Homo sapiens: one gene and its partner. The protein of the gene in region 1 purifies or fractionates together with the protein of each later gene. This does not show direct contact. Each region holds a gene or a part of one and is shown in the gene's direction. Other genes may lie near its edges.

Region 1 (4,410 bases):
AATAGGATTGAGTGTACAGAAATAAACCCTTATATTTATGGTCAATTATTTTTAAACATTGGTATTGAATCAGTTCAATGAACAAATAATAGTCATTTCAACAAATGATGCTGGGACAAGTAGACAACCACATGCAAAAGAATGAACTTGGACCCTGACCTCGCCATATAACAAATTAACTCAAAATGGATCTAAGACCTAAATATAAGAGCTAAACTATAGCACCTTTAGGAAAAAACATATAGGTAGGTCTTTGTGACCTTGATTAGGCAACATTTTCTTAGATATGTTATCAAAAGCATAAGCAGCAACAAAAAAAGTAGATTAGAGTTCTTCAAAATTCAGAACTTTTATGCTTCAATGGACACCATCAACAAAGTAAAAAGGTAGCCTATGAAACGGAAGAAAATATTTGCAAATCATATATGTAAGGGATCTGTATCTAGAAAAAAGAACACTTGTAACTCGATCATAAAAAGAGCACAGTTTTTAAAAGAGCAAAGCATCTGAATAGATATTTTTCTAAAGATATACAAATGTCCAACTGGTATAAAGATATGCAAATGTAGAGAAATTGGAGCCTTCTAACACTGTTGGTGGTAATATAAAATGGTGCAGCCTCTTTGAAAAACTGTTTGGCAGTTCCTCACAGGTTAAACATAGAATTACCATATGACCCAGAAATTCCACTCCTAGGTATATGACCAAGAAAGATAAAAATATGTCCATACAAAAACTTGCACGTGAGCTGGGCACAGTGGCTTCCACCTGTAATCTCAACTACTCAGAAGGCTGTGGCAGAAGGATCGCTTCAGCCCAAGAGTTCAAGACCAGCCTGGGCAAAACAGGGAGACCCCATCTCTAAATAAACAAAGAAAAAACCGGTACACAAGTGTTCACAGCAGCATGATTATTATTTTAGAAACAGGGTCTTGCTCTGTCACCCAGGTTGAAGTGCAGTGGTAGGATCATAGTTCATTGTAAACATGGCTCAAGCAATACTTCTGCCTCAGCTTCCCGAGTGGTTGGGATGACAGGCATATGCCACCATAGCAGCTATTTACTTATTTATTTGTTTTGAAGAGACAGGGTTCCACTAGGTTGCCCAGGTTGGTCTCAAATGCCTGGCCTGATCCTCCTGCCTTGGCCTCTCAAGGCACTAGGATTACAGACACGAACCATCATGCTGGGCCATAGAAGCATTATTTATAATATAATAGCCCAAATAATGGAAGCAATCACAATGTCCATTAGGTGATGAATGCAGAAACACCAAGTGGTACATCCATACAATGGAATATTATTCAGCCCTAAAAGGAGTGGAGTACTGATACAACATGAAGGAACCTTGAAAAGAATGTGCTAACTGAAACATGCCAGACACAAAAGGTCAGATATTACATGATTCCATTTATATGAAATGTCTAAAATAGGCAAATCCATAGAGGCAGAGAGTGGACTACTGGTTGGCCTAGCTGGGAGGGTTGGGAAGAAATGGGGATAATTACAAATGGGTATGAGGTTTCTTTTTAGGGTGATAAAAATGTTCTAAAATGGGTTGTGGTGATGGTTGTACAACACTGTAAATATACTAAAAACCACTGAATTGTGTAGTATGTGAATTATATGACAGTAAAGCTGTTACAAAAAAGAAAGAGAACAAGACTAGAAGACTACTACCAACAACTATCACTATCATTTTAGGTAAGAATGGATTACTTAACACTAAACAAGAGCAGTAAGAACAGGAAATTAAGGCAGTTCATTCATTTGAATAAATTTATCTTTAGTGAAAAAATCATCTCATTAGTTTTATTTCTCTTTTTATCACAGACAAATATTTTGAAATTACTAATATATTTCACTAAGGTCTCTGACAATTTCAATTCTATGATTCTAAAATTCCTGTGATATCTCCCTAAAGCAGTGATTAGTCCAGCCCCCTGCAGGGTTCCACAGCTCCATGGGTCTCATGGCCCAGTTTTAAAGAATTCTCCACCCCTTATTACTACTCTCTTCTTTATGCCTCTTTTCACTATGCTCATTACCTTTCATTTCTTCCTTAGGGTGATTCTGGAGGGCCTCTGTCGTGTCACATTGATGGTGTATGGATCCAGACAGGAGTAGTAAGCTGGGGATTAGAATGTGGTAAATCTCTTCCTGGAGTCTACACCAATGTAATCTACTACCAAAAATGGATTAATGCCACTATTTCAAGAGCCAACAATCTAGACTTCTCTGACTTCTTGTTCCCTATTGTCCTACTCTCTCTGGCTCTCCTGCGTCCCTCCTGTGCCTTTGGACCTAACACTATACACAGAGTAGGCACTGTAGCTGAAGCTGTTGCTTGCATACAGGGCTGGGAAGAGAATGCATGGAGATTTAGTCCCAGGGGCAGATAACTCACAGGAGAGCCACTGCTAACCCTGGGTGACTTTATTTACAATTTGAAATGATTTTGTTTTTAAGGTTTTTGATTTTGGAAGTTTTGGGGTTGGAATGTGAAGAGTTAAGAAATAAAACTGTCACTTCTGTACATTCTTTGTCCTTGACTAATGCATCTTCCAAGACAGGAAGGATGTCCTCTATGAATAAGCATTTGTAGACACAAATTAAATAGCTATAAGACTAATGTGTCTTCCAAGGCAGGAAGATGTCCTCTATGAATAAGTATTTGTAGACACAAATTAAATAGCTACTACAGAGGCAGGCAAGTATCTGTGATGACACAGGAAAATATAATAAGGGTCTACCTCGTGCCCATGGGTTGCATCATGGGATTTTAGTCTATTATTTCTCACCTTCTCTATTATCTTTAACTTCCCTTCTAACCCTCCCTTTACTCCTCAACTGTAACAAGAGGGCTAATAAAAAATTCATATAAAGCCAATTCCAAGCACACTGCCTACAGATTAGCTAGCCCTGTTCCATAAGGAGCAGTAAAAAAAGAAGAAAAAAAAAGAGATGCAAACATGGGTCAGGCATGTTGGCTCACACCTGTAATCCCAACACTTTGGGAGGCCAAGGATCACTTGTGGCCAGGGGATGAAGACCAGCCTGGGCAACACAGCCCCTGTCTCTACAAAAGAAATAAGAAATTAGCCAAGAATGGTGGCATGTGCCTGTGGTCTCAGCTACTTGGGAAGCTGTGGTGGAAGGATAGCTTGAGACCAGGAGTTCGAGGCTGCAGTGAGCTATGATCACATCACTGCACTCCAGACTGGGCAACAGAGCAAGACCCTGTCTTTAAAAAAAAAAAAGGAAAAGAAAAGAAGGAAGGAAATGCATATATGTAGTTCAGCCCTATATTTTTCTTAAGTTTTTACTTTTTAAAATACCAGTGTGACCTACTACGAACAATGGATTAATGCTATGATCTCAAGAGCTGAGGTCTTGGGTTTCAACAATCTGGACCTATCTAAGTGGTTTAACTTCACATCTATAAAAAAACACTTTAAATATTTGGAACAAAGGACATTATAGAAAAGAGCATTATATCCCATGCTTCCTTTGTTAAACAATCACACAACCTATCCTATTCCCTTCTATACCTAGGCTGCCAGAAACTCAGAGCTAACTTTTGAACTCAATTACAATCATTATCTTCACCACAGATTTTCTGGTATAATTCCATTCATACTTCTTTAAGTCATCCTTTATTTCTCATTTAAATGAACTTAAGTTTTATTGCATCTGTGTCTTTTACAAGATACGGATCCTTTTATAAAAAAAACTTTGTTTCTGAAAGTTGACTTAAAGTAAGTACATTTTGGCTTACTTTAAGCTTTAAGCTACAGGTGGCTCACACCTGTAATCCCAGCACTTTGGGAGGCCAAGGAGGGTGGATCACTTAAGGTCAGGAGTTCAAGACCAGCCTGACCAACATGGTGAAACCCTGTCTCTACCAAAAATACAAAAATTAGCCAGGCATGGTGGCGGGTGCCTGTAATCCCAGCTACTCAGGAGGCTGAGGCAGGAGAATCACTTGAACTCAGGAGTTGGAGGTTGCAGTGAGCCAAGATCCCATCACTGCACTCCAGCCTGGGCGAGAGAGCCAGACTCTGTCTCAAAATAAAATAAAATAAAATATAAAGTACATTTAATGGAAATACATTTAATAGAAAATAAGGGTAGACTGGCCGGGTGTGGTGGCTCACGCCTGTAATCCCAGCACTTTGGGAGGCCGAGGCGGGCAGATCACGAGGTCAGGAGATCAAGACCATCCTGGCTAACACGGTGAAACCCCGTCTCTACTAAAAATACAAAAAAAAATTAGCCGGGCATGGTGGCGGGCACCTGTAGTCCCAGCTACTCGGGAGGCTGAGGCAGGAGAATGGCGTGAACCTGGGAGACGGAGCTTGCTGTGAGCCGAGATTGCGCCACTGCACTCCAGCCTGGGCGACAGAGCAA
Region 2 (3,500 bases), on another chromosome or scaffold:
TGCTTCCTTGCCATTATCTGTATTATTCTTTTCAAGGAAATATCTCTTCATTACTTTCCCATTCTCTAATTGGATTATTTTGTTACTGTTGAGTTTTGAGAATTCTTTGTATATTTTAATAGGTATGGGTCCTTTGTCAGATACATGGTTTGTAAATATTTTCTCTCAGAATGTCATTCATATTTTTATCCTCAGCAGGATTTTTCACTAAGGAAAAGCTATAAACTTGGATAAAGTCCAATTTATTCCTTTTTTTTCTTTTATGGATCATGCTTTTGCTGTATTGTCTAAGAACTTTTTACTTAACTGTAGGTCCCAAATATTTTCTCCTTTGTTATCTGGAAAAATGTTACAGCTTTACATTTAAAGCTATGATCTATTTGAATTTTTTATATAAGGTGTGAGGTTGACACCAGAGTTTATTGTTTTGCTTATGGATGTCCAGTTGCTCCAGCATCACTTCTTGAAAGGCACTCCTTTCTCCATTGAATTGCTTTTGTACCTTTCTAAATTTCTTTTTTTTTTTTTTTTTTTTTTTTTGAGACAGGGTCTCGCTCTGTTGCCCAGGCTGGAGTGCAGTGGCACCATCTGGGCTGACTGCAAGCTCCGCCTCCCGGGTTCACACCATTCTCCTGCCTCAGCCTCCAGAGTAGCTGGGACTACAGGCACCCGCCACCACACCCAGCTAATTTTTTGTATTTTTAGTAGAGACGGGGTTTCACCATGTTAGCCAGGGTGGTCTCGATCTCCTGACCTCGTGATCCGCCTGCCTCGGCCTCCCAAAGTGCTGGGATTACGAGCATGAGCCACCTCTATACAGCTTTTATAATTGTTACCAACTGACACAATATTGATATACTAAAGACGAACAGTTACGTGTCTTTTGTGGTATCATTTCATACATTCTTACAAGTAGCATTTCTCAACCTGGAATTTCTCCATCAGAATCATTTGGGGAGGTTATCTAAACTACCTGATGGCTTCAGGTATTATGGTTCAATAAATTTGGGATATGCCTAGAAACGTGTCTTTTTAAAAAAGCCTCTATGATAATTTTGACATCCATTGTTGAGAACCACTGCTGTAATGAAACTTAAATTTTGGTTTTCATTTCATTATTCGTCAATGGTTTGAAATGATCTTTTAGTCAAGTCTTATGGTAATTTTGGTTCTTGAAGGCTCCCCAGTATGAGCCACTTTGGCTAATTAGAATTAATCTAGTTTTAAAATACATATCACATAATAACTTTTTGCTGAATAATCCTTTGTGAATTTTAACTCACTTGCTATGTATTTTAGTCATTTACAGGTGGAGGATACAGATTGGGTAGTTCTTTTTGTAAGCGGTCTGAATATATCTATGGAGAAAATCAGCTGCAAGATGTAGGTACAATAATCAAAATGAAAAAGTATAAATATTTGCTTCTAGTTACTAAAACTGTTGGTTTTAAAATTAAGAATTGATAATACAAATATATTTTTGTTACTTTTTAAAACATGGGTTAAAAGGACCAATGATGTGTGAGTTTTCAGTCTCGATCTTTATGTTTTGTATCACAATTATGCCTTGCACTTAGAGATATGGAACTATTTGTTGAAAGAATGTGTGATTCATTTTCCAAATGAATTTGCAGCCAGGCGTGGTGACATGCATCTGGAGTCCCAACTACTCCAGAGGCTGAGGTAGGAGGATCACTTGAGCCCAGAAGTTCAAGGCCAGCCCGGAAAACATAGCCAGACCCTATCTCTTTAAAAAAAAAAAAAAAAAAAAGGTGTTTAAAAAAATGAACTTGGGCCAGGCACAGTGGCTCACGCCTATAATCCTAGCACTTTGGGAGACTGAGGTGGGCAGATTGTTTGAGCCCAGGAGTTCGAGACCACCCTGGGCAACATAGTAAGACCCTGGATCTTTAAGATAAAAAAATCAATTAAAAAAAGAAAAATGAACAAATATATAGTTATTATTATAAATGGTATATTTTCATAATCTAAAATGAGGTGAGGTGTAAATGAAGAACACCTAAAGTCATTCTTTGTTTCTGTTGCCTTTTGAAATTTTGGAGTTTTAATTTTATTTTAGACATTGATAGTTTCTTGGAAGGTCACTGGAAATTCTGTTCCCCTTAGGATGAATATTTAAGCTCTGTAGCAAAGAAGAGTATGGGTGCAGATGAAGGAAAATGAAGGAAGTGGGAATCATGGAGTACAGCTCTTCTCATTGCTTTCATTTTCTTGTGAACCATCCACCAATAATTGTACTTCGAGGCCAGGGTCCACCTGCAGGACCTTTGGTATTTGCAGCCATTGTCAGTTTGTTAAGCTGAATGCAAACTAGCTAAACAAACACATGTGGTTTCATTAATGTCTTTCACTATGAATAAAGAATAGTAGAAATAACTCCCTATTTTAAATTAAGTAAATACGTTTTAGGATATCACATTTGGAACTTAAAATTATTTGGGGGAGATATATTCTTATGTATATGTGAATATATATATATATATATATATTTTTTTTTTTTCTATACCCAAAAGGTTCAGATTTTGCTTAAACTGTGGAGCAATGGTTTCAGTTTAGATGATGGAGAATTGAGACCTTACAATGAACCAACAAATGCTCAATTTCTGGAGTCTGTTAAGAGAGGGTAAGATGTATTATTTGTATTCTATTTGTTATGTAGAGTGGGACTTATTTTCTTAACAGACTACTCATTATTAGTGCACTACGGGTTTTCAAGAAGTAGTTCCTGGAATATATTAAATAAATGGTTGCTGGGGGTGTAGGTATTCTTAAGTTTATAAAGGATATACTGCTATCTGTATGTAAGTCACTGGTTCTTAATTTTGTGGGCCAGGGGCATTGGACATTGGCCCATTTTAAAATCTGATGAAACTATGAACCCAGCTCCAAGAAGAAACATCTTAATGTGATAATCAGTGAATTAATTAGTATGTAGCTGCCCACCCACTAAGCCACTGTCCTGCTTACTGTTGACAGGGTGACTCTCATTGCATGTATGCCTGAAATTCAGCAACTTATGTTAGAAATCTTTTAATGTGGCATTACTGCTGGCAGAAGATTTCAAAAGGTTAGTTTGAAGTTATAATTTGTGAAAGTAAACTCAGATATTCAGTGCTCTCACCCATCCAAAGAACATTGTAACTTACCAGCTCTTCTTGCTAAAGGATGAGGAATCAAGTGATTTTGCTATGATAATAAAAGCTTTTCTGTGTTATGATTAAACTAGCTGAAAGTGGAGTTATTTCTAAGTAGATATGCAACTAAAGACATAAAGTTGAGCATAAACTGGGGAATTAAGTTGTAGGAAAGGATCAGAGTTTTACTGTATATAACCAGAGTTATATATACAGGGTTATACTCCATAAAGGAATAGAAGGTGGAACATTTCCAAATGTTGAAATATGTCCAGGATGAGTGGCTGACATGGAGTGGAGGTTAAATTCGTCTTTTAGAAGACTAATTAGCATGAATTTTGAATT

The links. The genes of interacting proteins can lie anywhere in the genome.
Region 2: the proteins of PRSS48 (region 1) and UBXN2B purify together in Homo sapiens (affinity purification with mass spectrometry; one large-scale study listed by BioGRID and IntAct). This does not show direct contact.

What each region holds. Positions count from the first base shown.
Region 1 is NC_000004.12:151,289,052-151,293,461, forward strand, and holds the end of PRSS48 (serine protease 48 isoform 1 precursor), read left to right. Parts: intron 1-2,066; coding exon 2,067-2,402; 3' UTR 2,403-2,811; downstream 2,812-4,410.
Region 2 is NC_000008.11:58,431,861-58,435,360, forward strand, and holds part of UBXN2B (UBX domain-containing protein 2B), read left to right. Parts: intron 1-1,299; coding exon 1,300-1,383; intron 1,384-2,534; coding exon 2,535-2,644; intron 2,645-2,997; coding exon of another isoform or gene 2,998-3,055; exon of another isoform or gene 3,056-3,243; intron 3,244-3,500. UniProt on the Homo sapiens protein: Adapter protein required for Golgi and endoplasmic reticulum biogenesis. Involved in Golgi and endoplasmic reticulum maintenance during interphase and in their reassembly at the end of mitosis.